3 separate regions of the Homo sapiens genome follow, and all the other regions are linked to region 3. The links come from fine-mapping of genetic effects on gene expression. A gene starts in region 3. Each other region holds a variant in brackets. All regions are shown on one strand. Distances are from middle to middle.

The links.
Region 1: its variant is fine-mapped to the expression of LINC01772 in monocytes (TOPMed, PIP above 0.99).
Region 2: its variant is fine-mapped to the expression of LINC01772 in whole blood (TOPMed, PIP 0.99).

Annotation. Positions count from the first base shown.
Region 1 is chr1:16,490,965-16,499,141 of GRCh38, reverse strand. It overlaps the pseudogene CROCCP3. Among named protein-coding and RNA genes, the nearest start is that of RNU1-1, 19 kb to the left of the region's middle. RefSeq lists a silencer at 1-304 and enhancers at 7,428-8,071, 8,072-8,177. The variant G/T (reference allele first, on the strand shown) is at 4,473.
Region 2 is chr1:16,421,954-16,430,130 of GRCh38, reverse strand. It overlaps SPATA21 (spermatogenesis associated 21), which reads left to right. Exons shown (of 13, transcript NM_198546.1): 4 at 8,160-8,177. Among named protein-coding and RNA genes, the nearest start is that of SPATA21, 11 kb to the left of the region's middle. The variant C/G (reference allele first, on the strand shown) is at 3,983.
Region 3 is chr1:16,457,813-16,465,989 of GRCh38, reverse strand. It overlaps LINC01772 (long intergenic non-protein coding RNA 1772), which reads right to left and starts at 5,042. Exons shown (of 2, transcript NR_147210.1): 1 at 2,703-5,042. NECAP2 (NECAP endocytosis associated 2) reads right to left here. Exons shown (of 8, transcript NM_018090.5): 8 at 5,912-7,148. The coding sequence ends at 7,100.

The DNA.
Region 1 (8,177 bases), 33 kb before region 3:
GCCGCTCGCCTGGGGGCGGGCTGGAGCCATGTCCCGGGGCTAGGGGCGCTGTGGGCGCCGCGCCCGCCGCTGCCCGGCACCGGAAGCCAAGAGGGCGTTCCCGACGGGCTCCGCAGATGCCCCTCCGCGTCCTGCCGCCCATCCTGCCCGGATTGTCGCGGGCCGGGGGCGCGACAGGAGGCCGAGGCCTGCCCGGGCGCAGAGGCCTGCCTGGGCGCAGCGGCCTGCAGGGCGCAGCCGTCCCTCCGCCGGTCGGGGTCCCCTCGCTCCGCGGGCGGCCGTGGGAGGCCCTCGCGACGGCCGCTACCCCTCGCAGATGCCCTCTGCAGCTCCTGCGTGCGGGCCCCGCCCTGCACTGCCCTCCTAGTGTGGGACGCGGTTTCGTCTTCATTGCAACCCTGCCGAGTCGGAAGCATCTCCATTGTGCGGATGGGTAAACTGAGGCCCAGAGCGCGCGGTTGGGCTGGCCACGGAGGCAGGGCCGCCGGATGCTGTGCGGGGATGGGGCCCTGCACCCCTTGCGCCTCTCACCATGGGGCCTCAGGCCCCTGTGCCCGGCAGCGTCTCTGGAGTGGGCATTTTGAACGAGCTCCCTCCTGATTTTCACACAGACTTAAGCCTGACGACCGTGCTGGGGCGGATGTCTGCCCCTCTGGTGACCAGGTCACAGCTCCCTTGGGAAGACGATTGACTGGGGAATGGGGACCCTGGGGAGGGGGCCTTCAGGGTGCCATCTGTCTGTTTACGCCAGAAAACAGAGATTTCTGTTTTCTTTCGCTGGGCTCACAGCAGGTGCTTAATAAACAGATCTTGTGGCGGGAGCAGAGGACAGCGAGGTTCAGGCACGACTCCAGGAGTCAACCCCTGGATCTCGGAGGCTCCCCACCCGCGCACATTTCCCTGACTTAACCCTCCCCTCCCCAGTCTTTCAGCCCTAGGAGGGGAGGCCCCCTTTCCACCCAGGTGGCCCCTGTGGGGGTCACTCCCTGGTTTTCACCCTGAACTTCTGGGATGCGGCAGATGCTGGATATGTGTTCGCTGGTGTCCTTGGCTCTTAGCATTCATTAATTCATTCAGCAGCTCTTCATGGAGCTTTGGCCTTAGCCCATGCACTGTGGAAGTGGCAGTGAACTAAGCCAACCTGGCACTTTGGGAGGCTGAGGTGGGAGAACGGCTTGAGCCCAGGAGTTGGAGACTAGCCTGGGCAACATCTCATCTCTACAACAAGTAAAAAATTAGCCAGGCATGGTGGCATGCACCTGTGGTCCCAGCTACTCAGGAGGCTGAGGTGGCCTCCCAAAGGCCCCCCCTCCTGGGCCTCCCTTAAGCCCAGGAGGTCAAGGCTGCAGTGAGCCATGATTTTGCCACTGCACTCCAGCCTGGACAACAGAGCAAGACCCTGTCTCAAAGAAAAAAAAAAGGAGGAGACAGACAACATACATGTTGGAGAAAACGGAACAGCCACTGGAGGGACCTCTTTAGCTGAGAGTCAGGGGTAGGTCCCTCAGAAGGTGATACTTTTGAGCAAAAATCTGGCCGACAAGCGGGGGAGTCAGCTGTGCAAAGGAAGAGGGAAGAGCGTCCCAGGCAGAGAAAGTGGCAGTGCAAAGGCCCAGAGGTGGGTGCATGCCTGGTGTTTGAGGAATCAAGAAGGCCATGAGCAGCCGGGTGTGGTGGCTCACACCTGTAATCCCAGCACTTTGGGAGGCCAAGGTGGGTGGATCACTTGAGGTCAGGAGTTTAAGACCAGCCTGGCCAATACAGTGAAACCTCATCTCTACTAAAAATGCAAAAATTAGCTGGGCATGGTGGTTCATGCCTATAATCCCAGCTACTCGGGAGGCTGAGGTAGGAGAATTGCTTGAACCCAGGAGGCAGAGGTTGCAGTGAGCAGAGATCGTGCATTACTGCACTCTAGCTCCAGCGTGGGCAACAGAGCAAGACTCTGCCTCAAAAAAAAAAAAAAAAGAAAAAAAAAAAGGAGATGAGGTGGGAGAAGTGGAGTGGGACCAGATCTGGTGGGCCCTGTGGGCCATGGAAGGACTTTGAACTTCATTTTAGGTGCGGTAAGGGCTAGTAGAGGGCCTTGGGTAGGGGAGGGATATGACCTTTACTGTGTGAAACTTGAGTGGGTGAGGGGATGAGCAGGAAGCATAGAGACCCTCGGGGAGCCATCTCAGCAGTCCAGGCAGTGGCTTATATAATACACATCGGCGTCCTGGGGTGGTGCCAGGTACACAGCAGGCGCTGCAGGATGGAAGTCATTGCCGTTACTGGTTTTGTTTATTTGAGACAGGGTCTTGCTCTATCACCCAGGCTAGAGTGCAGTGACACAACCATGGCTCATTGCAGCCTCAACCTTCCAGGCTCAAGCAATCCTCCTGCCTCAGCCTCTCAAGGAACTGGGACTACAGGAGGTGCATGCCACCATGCCAGGCCAATTTTTTGTATTTTTTTTTTGGTAGAGATGGATTCTCACTATGTTGCCAGGGCTGGTCTCAAACTCCTGGGCTCAAGCAATCCTCCTACCTCAGCCTCCCAAAGTGTTGGGACCACAGGTGTGAGTCACTGCACCCGGCTTGCTGTTATTATTTAAAACTCTGGGCTGGGCGCAGTGGCTCATGCCTATAATCCCAGCACTTTGAGAGGCCGAGGCGGGTAGATCACTTGAGGTCAGGAGTTTGAGACCAGCCTGGCCAACATGGTGAAACCCTGTCTCTACTAAAAATACAAAAATTAGCTGGGCGCGGTGGCGCATACCTGTAATCCCAGCTACTCAGGAGGCTGAGGTAGGAGAATTGCTTGAGCCCAGGAGGCGGAGGTTGCAGTGAGCCGAGATTGTGCCATTGCACTCCAGACTGGGTGACAGAGTGAGACTCCATCTCAAAAACAAAACAAAACAAAACAAACAAACAAAAAACAAAAACCCTTTGGAATCAGGCACACCTAGGTCGCGGCTGTGACTTGAGCTCTTTGTGGCTGGGTGCATTGGAGCCAATTATTTAACTTCACTGAGACTTCACGCTGTCATCTGTAAAGTGAGTAGGGTGGTGCCAGGAGTGTTAAAGCAGGTAAGGGACAGATGTAACGTTTTGGGCACAGGGCCTGGCTCGTGGTTGGTTCAATATTTTTGTCATAATTTCTAGTCAGCAGCAGGAGGATAATGAAGGGGTAAGCGGATAAGAGCAGCTGCTATGTTTGAAACGAGTAATCTTTGAGGGGCTTTTTGGCTAGTTCCTGCCGCTAGCCCTGGCAAAAGGCAAGTTTGGAGGGTGGTAGTGGGGAGGGAAGGGTACAAAGGGTGTCTCCTCTGTATTTGGTCACCAAATAATGTCTCAGCATCTAGAACAAGGCACAGGGTTCTAGCTTGGGGACTAGAAAGAGCCAATAATACTCATGATAGTAATGATAACAGTAGTAATAGCCAACACTTACCCGCTGTTGAACTGCAGGTAGTAATTAAGGTAACACTAGCTAATGTGATAGTGAAACCCTGAATTCTCAGAGGCTTAGCGCAATAGAAGTTTATTTCTCATTCATGAAAAGCCCTGTTGGGTGTTTGGCAGGTGGCTTTCTATGTGGCGACCCAGGGACCGAGATCCCTTCTGTCTTGTGGTTGCGGCATCCCCTAGGACCTTGGAGTTATTTCCTTCTAGCTGATGGACCAGGAAGGAGAGAAATAATTTTATGGACCAAGCCTAAAGTGGCACGCTGTCTTTCTGTCTTAATTCTATGGACCAGAACTTGACCACATGGCCGTATCTGACTGCAAGGGAGTCTGGGAAATGGCTTTTAGCCATATTCCTAAGAGGAATCGGAAATGCTTTGTGGTGAGCACATTGCAGTTTCTGCCACACCATATCCAGGCATATAGCTTAGCACGGAGTATTTTATTTAATGCTCATGCTAGAAACAGGCACCATTATTATCCCATTTTGCAGATGAGGAAACTGAAGCTCAGAGAAGTGAAGACACTGGTGCAGGGTCACACAGCTGGTGAGGGGCTGGTGAGCCAAGATTGGAGTCCAGGTGGCCAGATGCTGAAGCTGTTAGCATCCAGATTTCTAAGAGGAATTCAGTCATTTTTTTTTTTTTTTTTTTGGAGAATTGGGTGGAAGCAGTGGACATATACACGGGGTTCAGATATGACTTCCTGGGACCCACAGAACCCAGCAGGACTCTGGGGGAGAACTTTGGGGATGGAGCCAAGGGTGGGTGTCACCTGGTGCCAGGGGCTGACATCCTGTCTCCTTCCCCCAACCCTTAGGACTGTGGTCAGGAGAAGGCACAGAATAATTGAGTTCAGTCCCTCAAGGACATCTGGGGCCCCCTCTGCTGAGCTAGGCATGCAGGGCTGGACATGCTGGTCCAGGGGTATTTGTGGCTTCCCCCCTGCTCTGGTGGGCAGGTGTGCAACCTGTAGAGGGGATTTTTGGAGGCTGCCTAGAGGTAGAAGAGTGGGCGTCCCTGGG[G/T]TTTGTAGTGGCAGCTCTATGCTGCTGGCTGGATTAGTTTTCTTTTTTTTTTTTTTTTTTGAGACAGAGTCTCTCTCTGTCACCCAGGCTGGAGTGCAGTGGTGCGATCTCAGCTCACCAAAACCTCTACCTCCCAGTTTCAAGTGGTTCTTGTGCCTCAGCTTCCCGAGTAGTTGGGACTACAGGCACCCACCACCATGCCCAGCTAATTTCTGTATTTTTAGTAGAGACGGGGTTTCACCACATTGGCCAGGCTGGTCTAGAATTCCTGACCTCAAGCGATCCACCTGCCTTGGCCTCCCAGTGTTGGGATTACAGGCATGAGCCACCGCACCTGGCCAGTGGCTGGTTTGGTTTTGCCCAAATCTGGCTTGCTTGCCATTGCAACTTGGCAACATTTATCTTTTTGGCCCTGTTTCTTGGTTTTCCATTTGCAGGGCAGGTTCCTTAGTTGGGCATGAGCGGTCCAGCCTGGACTGATGAGCATTTATACAGCACCGTGGCATTCTGGGTCTGACCTGGATACAGAAGTAGAGCCTCAAAGCACAAATGCCTCGGCCTTGCCCTTCAGTCACTCATTGGGAGGCTGCTGGTCTAAGTGGAATGAGCTTTGGGCTCACCACTTCCCTGAAGCATGTCGCCTTGAATAGGTGAGAGCCCAATCTCTCTGAGCCTCAGTTTTCTCATCTGGAAATGGGTTGAAGTAAGGATTTAATGAGATAATGTGAATATGCCCCCTTTGGGGCACAGCATGGAGCAGCGGGCACCCAGAGGTCAAGGGCTGAGGCATAGCAGTGTAGCAGGACGAGCCGCAGGCAAAACTCCTCAGTCACCAGGTTAAAGAAGGAAGGAGCTTTATTCGGCCGGGAACTTCAGGAGACTTGTGTCTTAAAAGCCGAGCTCCTCGAGTGAGCAATTCCTGTCCTTTTTCAGGGCTTACAACTCTAAGGGCAGGAGGCCAGACACGTGATGCTAATGACAATAGGAACAGCAGCCACCATTGGCTAATAGCTCACCACCTGCCAGGTGTGGTAGGTACTATCAGTCGCATTTTTTTGTTGTTTTTGGTAGGACAGAGTCTCGCTATGTTGCCCAGGCTGGTCTCAAACTCCTGGGCTCAAGCGATTCTCCCATTTTGGCCTCCCAAAGTGCTGGGGTTACAGACCTGAACCACCACACCCAGTCTAGTATCATTTTATTTTATTTTATTTTATTTTTTTGAGACAGAGTCTTGCTCTGTAACCCAGGCTGGAGTACTGTGGCACAATCTTGGCTCACTGCAACCTCCTCCTCCTGGGTTCAAGTGATTCCCCTGCCTCAGCCTCCTGAGTAGCTGGGATTATATGCACATGCCACCACGCCCCAGCTAATTTATTTATTTATTTATTTATTTATTTATTTATTTATTTATTTATTTTTTGAGACAGAGTCTTACTCTGTTGCCAGGCTGGAGTGCAGTGGTGTGATCTCCGCTCATTGCAGTGTGGCCTCTTGGGGCTTCCTCCGTGCCTCTGCTCGGTAACCATAGCGATCTTCCAGGGAACTGTGGGCATGGGTTGGTGACACTCAAAATGCGAGTGATAGGGAGGTGAACAAGGTAGGCCCTCCCACTACTGGGCTGGTATTCTGGGAACAACAGACAAGCTAACTGATGTCTTTAATGCCACAGTCAGCTTCAAGGTTCAAGCGATTCTCCTGACTCAGCCTCACAAGTAGCTGGGACTACAGGCATGCACCAACATGCCCAGCTAATTTTTGTATTTTTAGTAGAGACGGGGTTTCACCATGTTGGCCAGGATGGTCTCAATCTCTTGACCTCGTGATCTGCCCACTTTGGCCTCCCAAAGTGCTGGGATTACAGACTAATTTTTGTATTTTTAGTAGAGATGGAGTTTCACTATGTTGGCCAGGCTGGTCTCGAACTCCTGACCTCAAGTGATCTGCCCGCCTCAGCCTCCCAAAGTGCTGGAATTACAGGCTTGAGCCACTGCGCCTGGCCTGGTCTAGTCTCCTTTTAGAGATGAGAAAACTGAGGCTCAGGGAGGTAACCTGTTCAAGGTCATGAACTGTCTTGAAGACCATAGTTGCAAGTGACAGAGCTGGGTCTCAGATGCAACCTCAGACCTGATACTGACTCCAGAGCTGTGCGCCTAAGCACTAGAGCACATAGCCTCCTTGCCCCAGGGAAAGAACAATGGGAGGTTGTGGGTGACCTCTGGGTCTCAGGGCCCTGGGATATAGGGACTGTGCCTTTTTTTTTTTTTTTTTTTTGAGACAAAGTTTCGCTCTTGTTGCCCAGGCTGGAGTGCAATGGCATGATCTCAGCTCACTGCAACCTCCGCCTCCCAGGTTCAATTGATTCTCCTGCCTCAGCCTCCCAAGTAGCTGGGATTACAGGCATGTGCCACCACACCCGGCTAATTTTTGTATTTTTGGTGGAGATGGGGTTTCGCCATATTGATCAGGCTGGTCTCGAACTCCTGACCTCAGGTGATCCGCCTGCCTTGGCCTCCCAAAATGCTGAGATTACAGGTGTGAGTGCCCATGCCTGGCAGGACTGTGCCTTTTGCATTTTCAAATGAAGGAAATGAGTATTTCTTGAGTGTTGACCGTGTGTCCCCCCGGCACCGTGTCATGTGCTGGTTATGCACACACGATATTCTGTTTCATCCCCGGACAGCTCTGTGAGGTGAGTACCAATATTATTCACATCTTACGTAAGAGGACACTGAGTCTCAGAGAGAGGCAGAGTCACTGTCCCTGGTGCACCCAGCTAGTAGGGGCTGGGGTGGGTGTGAAGGGGCCAGAAGCTTCCCAATAAGTGCCTGAAGGGCAAGGCTAGGGCATTTGTAGTTCGAGGCTCTACCACTCTGTCTAGGTCAGACCTAGGAATGCTGCAGGTGTTGCATAAATGCTCATCAGTCCAGGCTGGACCGCTCATGCCCAACTAAGTGCCAAGCCTGGCCTGGCTGATCTCACAGCCTGCATTCTTTGCCCTACACCTGTTGTGGGAAAACGTAAATCCTCTCATTCTTAGCTAACCTTGTGACCCCCGTTCTGGGCCAGCAAAGATGATCCCAAATACTTAGGACTCTGGCCTTTCGCACTACGTGGCTACTGACCCCACCCCCTGGGCTTGGAGGGCTCTAGGACCCAACAACCTGCGGAGGGTGAAGAGTGTGTGAGGTCCTGACCTCCAGCTGCCTCCCCTCCTTTCCTCCCCCCATTCCCTCTTCTCTCTCCTCCCTCCCTTTCTCTCCCTTCTCCTCCCCTCTCTTCATCCTTCCTCTTCCTTTGGCTCCCCACCTCTGCTTCCCTCCTCTCCTGTCCTTTTCCATCCCCTCCCTCCTCAGCCCCCACCCCAGAGCCTGGAGTTGCAGAGGCAGCTACAGGAGGAGCAGGCCTCCTACCAGCGCAAGCTGCAGGCCTACCTGGAGGGCCAGCAGCGGCAGGCCCAGCTTGTGTGCAGCGGCTGCAGGGCAAGGTCAGGGCCACCCACTCCTGCTCCTGCCCTCCCACATGTTCATTTTGCCCTGCCCCCACCCATGGGGGTCACCATCAGCTCCCCATCCCCACATTCTCCAGTACAAGAAGAGGTACTCGGAGCTGGAGCAGCAGCTGCTGGAGAGATCCGGAGAGCTGGAGCAGCAGCGGCTAAGGGTGGGTGCCAGGGTGGGGCAGGGGCAGGCCTGCCCCTGCCCTCCA
Region 2 (8,177 bases), 36 kb after region 3:
TTTTTTTTTTTTTTTTGAGATAGAGTCTTGCTGTCACCCAGGCTGGAGTGCAATGGTGTGATCATGGCTCACTGCAACCTCTGCCTCCTGGGTTCAAATGATTTCCGTCTAATTTTTTTTGTATTTTTAGAAGAGATGGGATTTCACCATGTTGGACAGGCTGGTCTTGAACTCCTGACCCCAAGTGATCCGCCCACCTCGGCCTCCCAAAATGTTAGGATTACAGGCGTGAGCCACTGCGCCCCACTGGCCTCTTTTTGAATGTGCCAAGTAGCATGAACTGAAGAGCATAAAGAAGACCCTCCTCACCATCCAGTTTCCTCAGGGCCAAAGATATCACCATTTAAAAAGTCAGCCAGCCGGGCGCGGTGGCTCACGCCTGTAATCCCAGCACTTTGGGAGGCCGAGGCGGGTGGATCACCTGAGGTCGGGAGTTCAAGACCAGCCTGACCAACATGGAGAAACCCAGTCTCTACTAAAAATACAAAATTAGCCTGGCATGGTGGTGCATGCCTGTAATCCCAGCAACTTGGGAGGCTGAGGCAGGAGAATCGCTTGAACCTGGGAGGTGGAGGTTGCGGTGAGCGGAGATTGCACCATTGCACTCCAGCCTGGGCAACAAGAGTGAAACTCCATCTCAAAAATAAATAAACAAACAAACAAACAAATAAATAAAATACAATACAATAAAATAAAAAGTCAGCCAGGTGCCATGGCTCACGCCTGCTCCCAATACTTTGGGAGGCAGAGATAGGTGGATTGCTTGATCCCAGGAGTTAAAGACCAGCCTGGGCAACATCGTGAGACCCCGTCTCAAAAAAAAAACAAAGCCAGGCGCGGTGGCTCACGCCTGTGATCCCAGCTCTTAGGGAGGCAGAGGCGGGAGGAGAGCTTGAGTCCAGGAGTTCGAGGCCTGCCTGGGCAATATAGCGAGACCCCGTTCTCCACAAAAAGGAAAAGAAAAAAAAAGCCAAAAAAAAAAATAAAAAGTCAACATGCCCTTGGGTATGTTCCCTGTAGCCTCTGTTATAAATCCTCACTTCCCCTGGGGCAGGGAGAGGGCCTGGAGGGGAGGAGGCTAGGAGAGAGGCTAGAGGTGAACATTCAGGGCTTCCTTCATCCACCCATTTATTTTTTCAACAAGCACCGTCATGGGGTCCCAGTCCCACCACTTACCCAGCTGTGTGATGTTGGGCCTGTCACTGCACCCCTTGCAGCCTCATTTGTTTTACGGTGTTGACTAAGGCACCTAGCACAGGCCCTGTCTCATAGTAGGTGCCTGTTAGTATTAGCTCACATCAGAATCTTGTATTATATCAATGTCAATGAGTTAATTAAGTCCATTTGTTTGGAGTTTGCTGACTCCGGTGATGCTTGGAGCGGGGTCTCAGTCACTGGCTCCAGGTCACCCAGTTGGAGAGTGACAGACCATGATAGTGATCAAAACCCAGTTCAGGCCAGGTGCGGTGCCTCATGCCTGTAATCCCAGCACTTTGGGAGGCTGAGGCAGACGGATCACTTGAGGTCAGAAGTTCGAGACCAGCCTGGCCTACAAAAAAAATAAAAAAAAAAAATTAGTTGGGCATGGTGGCGCACACCTGTAATCCCACCTACTCGGGAAGCTGAGGCACAAGAATCGCTTGAACCCAGCAGGTGGAAGTTGCAGTGAGCCGAGACTGTGCCACTGCACTCCAGCCTGGGCAAAGGAGGGAAACTCTCTCTCAAAAAATGAAATAAAAACTCAGTTCAAACTAGAGCCTGCGTTTTGAAGGCATGGGAATTGTTGAAGGCGTCTCTTGGACCTTGTGAGAGTCTTGGGGTCCCCCAGGGTGCTCTTTCAAGCTGTCCTTAAGGCAATCCCCTTGTCTCGGGTACTAATCTGGACTCCAGTTCATACCAGAGCCTTACGTGCTAAGCAACAGCAACAGCAGGGCCGGGCCCTGCATCCCTGCCTCTCAGCTCCTGCTCACCCCTCTCCAACAGCTTCCCCAATCAGGCACAGGATCTCCCTGTCCTTGAGGCCAGAAGAGTACCCAGGGAGGAGTGGGAGGGATCACTCCAGAACGGGTACTCAATGCCAGCCCTCAAGCCACTGCCATGGATATCTCTGTCCAGGTCATGTTTCCGGATGCTTCGGAAGTGGGCAGCAAGAAGCACCTCTCATCAGCTTCACGAGGGCCAGAGAAGGGGCCCAGACTCAGAGATGCATTTGAGAAGGGGCCTTCAGAGCTCAGAATCCAGGAGCAGGGGCCTCCAGCAAGACCAGGGTGAGCTGAGGGGCTCTCGAGAGAACAGGTCCAAGAGAGAACCCCCTGTAGCCCACCCGCGGGGGAGAGAGAGAGAATGGAGAACTCCCAGGCCAAGGCAGCTCCACCCACGACAGCACCTTGTCCTTCTCTTTCATTGCACCAGTTGCACTAAAGAGTTCATGTTAACCTTTTGTCTGAACTCCCCCAACGAGACCACAAACATCTTTTATGTGTCTTGTTTGAGGAGCATCATATACCTGGTTCAACCTCAAAGCCCTCATGCCTAGTACTATGCCTGACACATAGTAAATGTTCGATAAATATTGATTCACTGAATTAATAGAATAATGAACAAAAAAAGGTTAGGAGACACAGGAACATGTAAAGATGTACACGTAATTGTTTTCTAAATTTTGTGTTTTTTTAAAACTTTTCTACAGCAAGAATGTATTCAAAAAGAGAAAATCAAGAGCGAGCCAGATAGAGGCAAAGTGAAAGGCTGGGATAATAGAAATAGTAAAGACTAGCTGGCTTAGTTGGATTTGACTATAACCAGAAGCTCCTAAATAGCCTCCTCTACAAGAAAAGTTAGGAGAGACAACTCAAGCCAGGTCCGAGGCCCACTGAGACAACTACTGCATACCATGCCGGTGGAAATAGAAACCATTTAAGCATACCTGTTTCATCAACGTGGCAATTTGTTTAAACTGCCTTGAAACTCCCTTTATCCTCACCCATTTCTGGAAATAGGCCATGAGGAAATAATTGGTGATTCAAGCAGTTTTATGCACAAAGACTTTCACTGTCACATTATCTTAAATACTAAAAAATTAGAAACCCCTTAAGCGCCCACACAATAGGGAAATGGTTAATGATGGTTATCTTTAAAATATGGAATTTTATACATTTAATGAACATAAGAAAACATATAAAGCATGTTTCTGAAGGATTTTTAGCATGCGAAAAACACAGGCTATGATGTTAATTGAAAAAAGTACATTAGGCCGGGCACAGTGGCTCACACCTGTAATCCCAGCACTTTGGGAGGCCAAGGCAGGTGGATTACCTGAGGTCAGGGGTTTAAAACCAGTCTGGCCAACATGGCAAAACCCCATCTCTACTAAAAATATAAAACTAGCTGGGCATGGTGGCACATGCCTGTAATCCCAGCTACTTGGGAGGCTGAGGCAGGAGAATCACTTGAACCCAGGAGGCAGAGGTTGCAGTGAGCCAAGATCACTCCACTGCACTCCAGCCTGGGCAACAAGAGCAAAATTCTGTCTCAAAAAAAAAAAAAAAAAATATATATATATATATATATATAGCCGGGCACCATGGTTCACGCCTGTAATCTCAACACTTTGGGAAGTTGAGGTTGGCGGATCACTTAAGCCCAGGAGTTCAAGACCAACCTGGACAACATGGTGAAACCCCATCTCTACAAAAAATATGAAGATTGGCCAGGCATGGTGGCATATGCCTGTAGTCCCAGCTACTTGGGAGGCTAAGGCGGGAGGATTGCTTGAGCCCAGGAAGTGGAGGTTGCAGTGAGCTGAGATCATGCCACTACACTCGAACCTGGGTGACAGAGCAAGACTCTGTCTCAAATAAATAAATAAATAAATAAGTATGCATACGCATAGGAAGAAGCTTGGAGGAAATACTCCAGAATACTAAAGTGAGATCGGATAGACACAGCTTCAAATTTTGAACAGTTATCTTTAGCTTTATGA[C/G]CTTAGGCTCAAATCTCTTGTCCTCTCTGCATCCCAGTTCTGATTTTTGTTTCATTTTTTTCTGAAAAACAGTTTAAAAATACTATAAAACTTAAATTCTAGGCTGGATGCAATGGCACGTACCTCTAATCCCAGCACTTTGGGAGGCCGAGGTCGAAGATTGCTTGAGCCCAGGAGTTCAAGACCAGCCTGGGCAACACAGAGAGACCTTGTCTCTACAAATAATTGTGAAAGTTTAAATTTTAACTCCCCCAAACATTGACATCAAAGTGTCTATGATTTGGGGAATTCCTGTGAGTCCTTCATTGGTCCTTCCAGGCGTTAGCTATGCACCTATGGTATGCCTAGCCCTGTAAAAATATATAAAACAGTGCCCCAGTCTGGGAGCTAAAGTGTCACTTTGTCTATTTTCCCCAGGAAGAAACAGCCCTCTTGGGTCCCCCAGGAAGGGTCCCAGGAGCTGCAAGCAGGCCAGGATCAGAGTGAGCTGGGGTTGCTGCCTTCCTGGGTTCCTGAAGTACCTGAAGGGCTGCAGCAGCTGGGCTCCGGAAAGGAGATCAAGGGCCAGCAGGGGAGGCAACGGAACCGGGGAATCGGGGAGGATCAGCCTCCTGAGAGCTGCCAGGTAACCTAGGAGATCTGGGGAGAAGGGTATGGAATGACCTACCACAGAGGAGGTGAAAGAGCCCCCCTCCTATCATGCCCCCCATTCTGGTGCATGTATCTGTAGTCCCAGCTACTTGGGAGGCTGAGGCAGGGGTGATCCCTTGAGCCCAGGAGGTCAAGGCTACAATGAGCTATGTTCAGGCCACTGCACTCCAGCCTGGGTGACAGAATGTTTGCTCACCTCTGTGCCCTGAAGATGTCAAGCACTCAGTCTGTGGGTCACTGGGCTATTCCCCCAGCCTACATCACAAGCATTTAAGTCTTGTTTCCAGGCCGGGCATGGTGGCTCACGCCTGTTAATCCCAGCACTTCTGGAGGCCGAAGGAGGCAGATCACCTGAGGTCAAGACCAGCCTGGCCAACATGGTAAAACCCTGTCTCTACTAAAAAATATAAAATTAGCCGGGTGTGGTGGCACATGCCTGTAATCCCAGCTACTCAAGAGGCCGAGGCAGGAGAATTGCTTGAACACGGGAGGTGGAGGTTGCAGTGAGCTGAGATCGCGCCATTGCACTCCAACCAGGGCAATGAGAGCAAAACTCCGTCTCAAAAAAATAAAAATAAAATAAAAATAAGTCTTGTTTCCAGAGTGGCCCCACGGTATGTCAATGGGTGCAGGGGGGAGGGAGGAGGTGCCAGGTTCTGTATACAGATAATATTGGGACATGCTGAGTTTAACAAAGCTGAAACAGGTTTCTGTATGCTAGGATATCCTGGAAGCAGTTTACTAGCTGCTGAGCCTTTGTAAGATTTTGCAAGATATGATTAGAGGCCAGGCGCCGTGGCTCGTGCTTGTAATCCCAGCACTTTGGGAGGCTGAGGTGGGAGGATTGCTTGAGCCCAGGAGTTTGAGATCAGGGCAACATGGTGAAACCCCGTTCCTACAAAAAATACCAAAGTTAGCTGGATGTGGTGGCACATGTCTGTGGCCCCAGCTACTCCAGATACTGAGATGGGAGGATCCCCTGAGCCTGGGGTCCAGGCTGCAGTGAGCCAAGATCACACCACTGTGCTCCAGCCTGGGTGACAGAGTGAAACCCTGTCTCAAAAAAAATAAAAATAAAAAAATAAATAAAAAATTTTAAAAAGATATGGTTAGAGTATATTGCCTTTCCCAAACTTATTTGACCACAAGATCTTTTTTTATTTATCTGTAAGATTTTTTTTTTTTTTGAGACAGTCTTGCTCTGTCGCCCAGGCTGGAGTGCAGTGGCGCAATCTCGGCTCACTGCAAGCTCTGCCTCCCAGGTTCATGCCATTCTCCTGCCTCAGCCTCCCAAAGTGCTGGGATTACAGGTGTGAGCCACCGCACCCAGCCTGGTAAGATTTATTTTTAACAGCTTCAGTAAGGTATAATTGGCATTCACTTGCACATACTTTAAGTGTACAATTTAATATTTTGACATATGTACACACCCACAAAACCATCCCCACAATCAAGAAAGCAAACATAGCCATCACCCCAACCATTTCCTCATGCCCTTTCTCATCCCCCCTCCCACTAGTCTATCCCCAGGCGACTACCAACTATCACTATAGATTTGTTTGTATTTCGTGGAATTTTACACAAATGAAATTGTACAGTGTACATTCTTTCTGTCTGGCTTCGTTCACTCCACATGACTATTTGAGATTCATCTAGGTCGGGTGCGGTGGCTCAGCCTGTAATCCCAGCACTCTGGGAGGCTGAGGCGGGTGAATCACCTGAGGTCAGGAGTTCAAGACCAGCTTGGCCAACCTGGTGAAACCCCGTCTCTACTAAAAATATAAACATTAGCTGGGCATGGTGGCAGGTGCCTGTAGTCCCAGCTACTCGGGAGGCTGAGGCAGGAGAATCACTTGAACCTGGGAGGCGGAGGTTGCAGTGAGCTGAGATCATGCCAGTGCACTCCAGCCTGGAGAACAGAGTGAGACTCTGTCTCCAAAAAAAAAAAAAAAAAAAAAGGAGAGAGAGAAAGAGAAAGAAATTCATGTATTGTGTGTATCAACATGTTGTTCTTTTGGTTGCTCAGTAATATTTCCATTCTATGGATATACCATAATATACCACTTTTTTTTTTTTTTTTTTTTTGACATGGAGTCTCACCCTGTTGCCCAGGCTGGAGTGCAGGGGTGTGATCTTGGGTCACTGCAACCTCCACCTCCTGGGTTCAAGTGATCCTCCCACCTCAGCCTCCTGAGTGGCTGGGATTACAGGCACGTACCACCACGCCCAGCTAATTTTTGTGTTTTTAGTAGAGACAGGGTTTCACCATGTTGGCCAGGCTGGTCCTGAACTCCTAATCTCGTGTGATCCACCCACTTAGGCCTTTATTATTTTTTTTCAAGAGACAGAGTCTCACTCTGTCGCCCAGGCTGGAGTGCAGTGGTGTGATCATGGCTTACTGCAACCTCCACCTCCTGGGTTCAAGTGATTCTCGTCCCTCAACCTCCCAAATAGCTGGGATTACAGACATGAGCCACCATGCGTAGCTAATTTTGTGTAGAGACAGAATTTCTCCATGTTGGCCAGGCTGGTCATGAATTCCTGACTTCAAGTGATCCACCTGCCCCTCAGCCTCCCAAAATTCTGGGATTGCAGGTGTGAACCACCACACCTGGCCAAAACCTCCTCTTTTTAAGGAGGCTCATGAAGGATTCTTGTTCTTTGAAGTATCCCTTGGAAAATCCCATTAAGGCTGAGCATGGTGACTGATGCCTGTAATCCCAGCACTTTGGGAGGCTGAGGCAGGAGGAATGCTTGAGCCCAGGAGTTCAAGACCAGCCTGAGCAACATAGTGAGACCTCATCTCTACCAAAAATTAAAAAATATCAGCCAGGCGTGGTGACAGGTATTTGTAGTCCCAGCTACTTGGGAGGCTGAAGCAGGGGGATCCCTTGAGCTCAGGAGGTCAAGGCTACAATGAGCTGTGTTCTTGCCACTGCACTCCAGCCTGGGTGACAGAGTGAGACTTGTCTCAAAAAAAAAAAAAAATACACACACACACAAAGGAAAACCCTATTTAAAGGGGATCTTCTCAATTTTCCAGGCTCTCATTCCACTCCCATAGGGAAGTGTGGTTCTTTGGGTAGGCCACGCCTTCTCTGGGCTTCAATTTCCTCACCCTTCAAAATGTGGGAGTACCTGTGCTACCTTCTAGGGGCACTAGGAGAATTAAGTAAGATGATGCCTGAAGTGCTGGGACCCTAGTAAGTGTGTAATAACTGGTCTCCAGTTCGCCTGGAGCATTGAGGTTCACCTGGGAACGAGGATGGAGCTCCCCAGCCGTGGTGTCCTTGTCCTTGACAGGGCTCCGGATATCAATCCACCCCCAGTCACCAGGCAGACATGGTGCAGCCAGCAGAGCCTTGCTGCCGCTTGGCCAGCCATGGCCAGCCACTGGGAGGCAAGCACCCCAAGGAGGCAGGTGTCCCACACATCAGGCCACAGGAGGCTCCGCCAGAGCCCAGCCCAGGGGGACATGGGGACAGCTCTCAGGAAGCAATGCCCCCAATGTCCGTCGTGGCTCCAGAGGAAAAGACAGTCAACC
Region 3 (8,177 bases):
CGACACCTGTGAATGTGATCTTATTTGGAAATAGGGCATTTGCAGATAATATCCTCCTGGATTTAGGGTGGGGCCTAAATCCAATGATGGGCATCCTAATAAGGAAAGGAGAGGACACACATGGAAACACAGGGAGGAGGCAGAGATTGGCGTGATGCTGCCACACACCAAGGAATGCTCGGGGCCACCAGAAGCCTGAAGTGGCAAGGATTCTGGCCTAGACCCTCTGGAAGGAGCATGGCCCTACTGGCATCTTGATTTCAGATGTCCAGCCTCTAGAACTGGGAGAGAATAAATACATTCAGGTGGTTTAAAGCACCCAGTGTGTGGTCACTTGTTACAGCAGCCCTAGCAAGCTAATACACAGGTAGACTTGTTTTGAGACGAAGTCTTGCTTTGTTGCCAGGCTGGAGTGCAGTGGCACAATCTCGGCTCACTGCAACCTCTGCCTCCTGGGTTCAAGTGATTCTCCTGCCTCAGCCCCCCGAGTAGCTGGGACTACAGGCGCATTCCACCACGCCCAGCTAATTTTTAGAAGAGGCGGGGTTTCACCTTGTTGGCCCGGATGGTCTTCATCTGTTGGCCTCGTGATCGGCCCACCTCAGCCTCTCAGAGTGCTGGGATTACAGGCGTGAGCCACTGCACCCCGGCCAGGTAGACTTCTAAGATGGCTCTCAATGATCCTTGCCTCCTGGTATCCACACCCTCCACTTAGTGCGGACAGGACTTGTGACTTCTACTCTGAAGACCCAGCCAAGGGATGGGATCATTTCTGGAATTAAAACTATGACTGCTATCTTGCCACAATCACGTTTGCTGGCTTCAATGAAGCAACTGCAAAGATGTGAACTATGCAGAGGCCTACGTGGAAAGAAAATGAGAGTGACCTCTGTCCAACAGCCACGAGGAACAGAATCATGCCCAAAACCACGTGAGCGAGCTTGGAAGCAAACGCTTTCCCTGCTGGGCCTTAAGATGACAGTGCGGCCTCGACTGACACCTTGACTGCAGCCTGTGAGAGGCCTGTGACCCAGCTGAGCTGCACCAGATTCCTGACCACAGAAGCGGAGATGACAAATGCAGGTCATTTTGGGCGGGTGTGGTGGCTCATGCCTGTAATCCCAGCACTTTGGGAGGCTGAGGTAGGCGGATCACCTGAGGTCAGGAGTTTGAGACCAGCCTGGCCAACAGGATGAAACCTTGTCTCTACTAAAAATACAAAAATTAGCCAGGCATGGTGGCGGAAGCCTGTAATCCCAGCTACTTGGGAGGCTGAGGCAGGAGAATCGCTTAAACCTGGGAGGTGGAGGTTGCAGTGAGCTAAGATTGCACCATTGCACTCTAGCCTGGGCAACAAGAGTGAAAATCTGTCTCAAAAAAAAATAAAAATACAAATAAATAAAGTACCTACTTACAGGCTTTGTATGGTTGGCTAAAAAAAAAAAAAAAAAAAAAAGAAAAAAAAAAAAAAACAGTATCTGTCTACATTCAAGCTGCGGTGAGGAAAAATTGGTCTTTTCCCTACTCCAGTCCACTCAGTCCACAGAGCATGGTATCTTTCTCACTCCCAGCTCATAGAAATCGACAACTATTAAGCACCTACTGTGTGCCCATGATGCATTTCAGTAGCTTTCAATCACCAATGGAATAAAGCCCCACCCTTCGCCTGTCATTCCTACTTGCCACGGCTTTCGTAAGCCATGTGGAGGGAATGGGACTTTTCATATATTAAGGGGGTCTTATGTGCCAGGCTTTGCAGGGAGCACTGCTCCAAAGAAGTAGCCACCCTGACTAAAAGCATGGATGCTGGAGCCAGACTGCCTGGGTTCAAATCCCAGCTCTGCCACTTACCAACCATGTGACTTTGAACAAATTATATAATTTCTCTGCATTTCTCATTTTCGAAACAGGGATGAGTACTGCTATAAACATTTGTGTCCACCCCCACCTCCAAATTCATACTGAAACCTAACCCCTAGTATGATGGTATTTGGAGGTGAGTTCTTTGGAAGGTAATTATGTCATAAGCGTAGAGCCCTCACAAACAGTATTGCCCTTATAAGGAAGCCCCAGCCAGGTGTGGTGGCTCACGCCTATAATCCCAGCACTTTGGGAGGCTGAGGCAGGTGGATCATGAGGTCAGGAGTTTGAGACCAGCCTGGCCAATAAGGCAAAACACCATCTTGACTAAAAATACAAAAATTAGCTGGGCGTGGTGGCATGTGCCTGTAGTCCCAGCTACTTGGGAGGCTAAGGCAGGAGAATTGCTTGAACCCAACAGGCAGAGGTTATAGTGAGCCAAGATCACACTCCAGCCTGGGCAATAAGAGCAAAACTATCTTTAAAAAAAAAAAAGGCAGTGCCATTCCCATGTGGTGGCTCATGCCTTTAAGCCCAGCACTTTGGGCGGCCAAAGCAGGAGGATCACTTGAGGCCAGGAGTTTGAGATCAGCCTGGTCAATATAGCAAGACTCCATCTCTTAAAAAAAAAAAAAAAAAAAAAAAAAAGTCCCCAGAGTACTCTATTGCCCCTTCTACCATGTGAGGTTACAGCAAAAAGACGGCCTCACCAGACACCGAATCTGCTGGTGCCTTGGACTTCCCAGCCTCCAGAACTGTGAGCAAAAAATTTCTTTTGTTTATAAACTACCCAGGCTATGTTATTCTGTCATAGTCCCAAATAGACTAAAACAAGTACTTACTGGCCAGGTGCGGTGGCTCACACTTGTAATCCCAGCATTTTAGGAGGCCAAGGCAGGCTGATCACTTGAGGTCAGGAATTTGAGACCAGCCTGGCCAACATGATGAAACCCCGTCTCTACTAAAAATCAAAAAAATTAGCCGGAAGTACTGGCACACGTCTGTAATCACAACTACTCGGAGGCTGAGGCAGAAGAACTGCTTGAACGCAGGAGGCAGAGGTTGCAGTGAGCTGAGATCATGCCACTGCATTCCAGCCTGGGCCACAGAGCGAGACTGTCTCAAAACACAAAAAAAACAAGTCCTTACCTCATGGGGTTGTAGAGATGATGCAATGAGTTTTATAAGTGCATAGAATAGTGCCTAGCAGAGAGTTAAGCATTACTTTAGCAATAAACAATAAGCATTACTTAAAGGCAACAGGAAGGCCCAAAGGAGCATCATAAGGGACCTCCCAAGGCCCTACAGCTATTAAGTCTATCCAGATTCTCTCTTTTCCACACTGATTCCCACCTCAAACACACTTTGCTAACCTTTGTGTTGGTTATCTATTGCTGCATAACCTTACCAGAAACTTAGCGACTTAACACAATACATTTACCATCTGTTCCTATGGGACAGTCTGGGCACAGCTTAGCTGGTCCTCTGCAAGGCTGCAGTCAGTGTTGGTCAGGCCTGGGGTCTCACCTGAAGGCTTACCTGGGAGTGATCAGCCTCCAAGCTTGTGTGGTTGCTGGCAGCATTTGCTTTCTTGCAGACTGCTGGACTGAGCTTCAGTTTCTTGTTGGCTGTCAGAGGCTACCTCAGTTCCTAGCCACCTGACCCTCTCCCAAGGGCAGCTCACACAACATGACAGCTTCCTTCTTCAAAGCCAGCAAGAGAATTTCTCAGCAAGGCAGATGTTGCAGTCTTACATAAGGCAACCATGAAAATAACATCTTGTCACCTTTGTGGCACTCTACTGGTTAGCAGTCACAGGTCTAGGCCATCTCAAGGGGCAGGGAGTACATAAGGCTGTGAACAGCAGGTGGGGATCACAGTGACCACCTGGGAGTCTATCTGCCACACCTCCCAGTGCATCCAAATTCTGTTGTGCAGAGGGCAAGTGAGGTCTAGCATACCCCCCAAGAAAGCAGCCATCTTCTACCATCCACCCACCAGTTTGTAAACTCCAGTCAGGGGTGTAATTGAAGTGATGCCTGGTTTGGGATTGAGTTTTCCTGGAGATTCTGGTCCTGTAATGAGTTTTTTCCAGCTGGGATTCCAGTTAGTGATGGACAGCATCAAGCTGTCCCTTGCTCCTGGCCCCAGACCCCACAAGGTGCTTTTCAGGCTAGATTCCTGAGGGCTGTGTCATCAGCTGTGCCACCTCCTCCTCCCTACCATGATGAACTGTTCTGGGTACTTACCTGACTCCAGAGAAAGGTCATTAAGGTCAAACAATGCAATGTGCATCTGCTAGTGCCTCATCCGAGTGACGCTCAGGTGAAGGAACAGCCTGTGGCCACACGTCTAACCAGGGGATAGCCTAGATCCTAAGGCCAGGTCTGTCTCCACAATCCAAGTGCTGATCTTCAATGGTACATACTTTTTTTTTTTTTCCTTTTGAGACAGTCTTGCTCTGTTGCCCAGGCTAGAGTACAGTGGCATGATCTCAGCTCACTGCAACCTCCACTTCCTGGAGGCAATTCTCATGCCTCAGCTTCTCAAGTAGCTGGGATTACAGGCGTGCGCCACCATGCCTGGCTAATTGTTGTATTTTTAGTAGACGGGGTTTCACCATGTTCGCCAGGCTGGTCTCGAACTCCTAACCTCAAGTAAGCCACCCACTTCGGCCTCCCAAAGTGCTGGGATTGTGGGCATGAGCCACCACACCCAGCCATGGTACACACTTCTAATAAAGCTTCCTCTACATCTAAGCTTTCTGATTTCCACCCTCCAAGTACTTAAAACTGACTCGATGTGAAGTAATGCTATGTGAAATCGACATAAAAAAGTTACTGCTCCCGAAGATCCTTTAATGCAATCTCCTTACCCTTAATTCAATGGGCAAGAGAATCTTCAATTTTCATTTTCTTTCTCCTCTCTACAGTTTCTTAATCAGAGTGGCTATTTCCATAACAATAAAAACTGCTTCTTACAGAATCCTCAGGCAAAAGAAGTGTTGTGGCTTTTTTTCATTTTTAATTCTTTTAGAGAATTCTCTAGGGTCTCACTGCTGCCTAGACTGGAGTGCGAGGCCGTGATCATAGCTCACTGCAGCCTCAAACTCCTGGGCTCAAGCAATTCTCCCACCTCAGCCTCGCAAGTAGTTAGGATTCCAAGCATGCACCACCACCACACTAATTTTTTTTTTTTTTTTTTTTTTTAAGAAATGGGGTCTAACAGCCGGGTGCCGTGGCTCACGCCTATAATCCCAGCACTTTGGGAGGCCAAGGCGGGCAGATAACTTGAGGTCAGGAGTTTGAGACCAGCCTGGCCAGCATGGTGAAACCCCATCTCTACTGAAAAAATACAAAAATTAGCTCGGTGTGGTAGGTGCCTGTAATCTCAGCTACTGGAAAGGTTGAGGTAGGAGAATCACTTTAACCTGGGAGGCGGAGGTTGTAGTGACCAAGATTGCTCCACTGCACTCCAGCCAGGGCAACAGACTGAGACTGTGTCTCAAAAAAAAGGAAAGAAATGCATCTTACTATGTTGCCCAGGCTGGTCCCAAACTCCCAGCCTCAAATGATCCTCCCGTCTTGGCCTCTCAAAGTGCTGGGATTACAGGCGTGAGCCACTGCACCCGGCCTCTTAATTTTACTTTTGACCTCTGGGTATCTGCACCCCTTTACTACTTAGGGAGATGCTCTGCCGGTAGGTTTGGTGGAAGACGGAAAGCAAGGGGCCAGGCTCTCTAGAACGGCCTGTATCATGAGACGCCACAAGAGAATTAAGCCCCACACAAAGTGATTCAAGCAACTACTTTCACATCAACCAAAGGATGATGAAAAGACTGTACTATCCTAGAGAACACAGGAGAGAAGGTACCGATTGCCTTAGACAACAAGGTTGCATTTCCTCACTTTGGCCAGCCTCACACCCCAGCCCTGAACTTTCAATCTGGACACTTGGTCAGTGGTGAGAGAAGTGGCCGTGAGTCTAGCTGTGGCACCCTGAAGAGTTTAACAGCCACGCGGCCAGAAACACATTCATCTTTCACATACAATGACAGAAGTAAAAATATTTATTTTATCTTAAAAATCTGGTCCCGCAAAAAGGCCAACACTTTTTTCAGTTCACGGTCTTGACCTTTCAAAGAAGAAATCTTTCAACTGAGAGGTGAGTTAATAAAAGGAATGTCAGAGGTGCTTTCAGATTTCTTATAAACCAGTAAACCAAGCAACCCTGGACTTCTAGTTTACTGAGCTCCTTCTTCTAGCCATTCACAGTTCCTGAAGGAGAAAAGAAGTTGTTTGCAGATAAGGCACTTTAGAAACCACCAAAGAGAAAACCCAAGTCTGCCAGGAGCTGCACTGTGAACATGTGAGCCGAGAGGGCCACCAGCAGACAGAGTGCCAACTCCCACAGCTCCATGACAACAGCATCCACCTTCCTGCCCCAACACTGTTCCGTCTGGCTTCCAGCACCCGCCTTGGCTCTGTGTTGCCTACCTGGCCTAGAATACATGGAAACCAGACAACTGGCCAGAGATAAACACTGCTGCCTGAAGCTCAGGGCAGCTGCCCACAGTGAGGAATCCCTTCAGAGGCCCCAGCTGGGGCACGCCGAGGGAGCAGTTCCTTTTGCAAAGATGAGTTAGTGCGGATCAGCACATTAGCAAAGCAAAATATTTAAACATTTTTAAAAGCTGCTAATCCTTCCAATTTCCCTCCTGATTGTAGCTCAAGCTGCAGCCTCTAAACCTGCTAAAAATCAGGAAGAAACCCCTCCTCTGGAGGGCAGATGGACTGAAGTGGCTACAGCCAGTGTGGGTACGGAAAGCCTCCCGCTGAACTGTGATCATGTGACACCTGCAGACCCTGGGAAGGGCTGATCTGAATCCTGGCAGCAAACTCAACCTCTTCTTTTGCTTGGGGGGCTTGTGTTTAATACAGGTCATTGCGATGGAAGAAGTCTCAGAGTCTCTCTCACATCAAGAGGACAGATGGGGACAGGGATCCTGGAGCTTTTCTTCTCCTGTGTTCTGGTTGCATACTTGAATCCCAGGAAACAGTGTGACACGGTGCCAATTTACTGCCAAACATGCCCGGTTTGTCAACAGAGCCAGACAAGGAGGAGAGGAGAGATTCATGCCCCAAACACAGGCCAGCTGAGGAGGGCTTCGTCCTCCTTCCTTTGGCCCAGATGAGGGAGCGCCTTCCCAGAAGTCACATGAGGAAAAACCGTGCTCAGGTCAGAACTGGACCCAGCCTGTGCCTGGCTGGGTCTGGCTGGAAGTTGATCTGTAAAGAGAAGACAGGGAAGGGTGGGGGAGTTCAGATCTTTGAAAATACAAAGCAGATAAAAGTTGGTTTCTCTCTGGACAGAAAAAGCTCTAAGAAGCCAGTTCCTAAATGTTCTAGAGCAGCAGTCAGCAAACTCTGGCACAGAGACCAAATCTGGCCCTCGATGGTTTTTTTTTTTTAAATAGTTAATGTAACTGTATTTACCAAAGTTTTTTGTTTGTGGTTTTGTTTTTTGTTTTGTTTTTTTTTTGAGACAGGGTCTCACTGTCGCCCAGGCTGGAATGCAGTGGCACACTCAAGGCCAACTATAGCCTCAACCTCTTGAGCTCAAGCGATCCTCCTACCTCAGCCTCCCTAGTAGCTGGAACTACATGACCGGTTAATTTTTGTATTTCTTTTAGTAGACACAGGGTTTTGCCATGTTGCCCAGGCTGGTCTCGAACTCCTGGCCTCAAGTGATCTGCCTGCTTTGGCCTCCCAAAGTGCTGGGATTACAGGCGTGAGCCAACATGCCTGGCCGAAGAGTCTTAACCCCTTTCCCATGTAGAAAAAATATAGCTCACTGCCAGCCCTCATTTAATTTTACATAAACATGCTCTTTGAGGCTGAAGCAAATCTGACTGATTTTCAACGTGAAAATAAAATATAAAAACTGTTCTTGGAGTTATTTCAGAATCATCTGAATAATCAGAACTATTTTGGAAAAATCAGACTCCTCAAATGAATCTTAGGCTAAAAACTGTTCAAGAACGATGTTAACATCACATGTAAGAATGCTGCGTTTTCTAGGATTTGACTTTTTCAGTAATCAATAATTACTATATTTTGGGCCAGGCATGGTAGTTCACGCCTGTAATCCCAGCACTCTGGGAGGCTGAGGTAGGCGGACTGCTGGATTCCAGGAGTTCCAGACCAGCCTGGGCAACATAGCAAAACCCCGCCTCTACTAAAAATACAAAAAATTAGCCGGGTGTGGTGGCAATTGCCTGTAGTCCCAGCTACTCAGGAGGCTAAGGGATAATCACC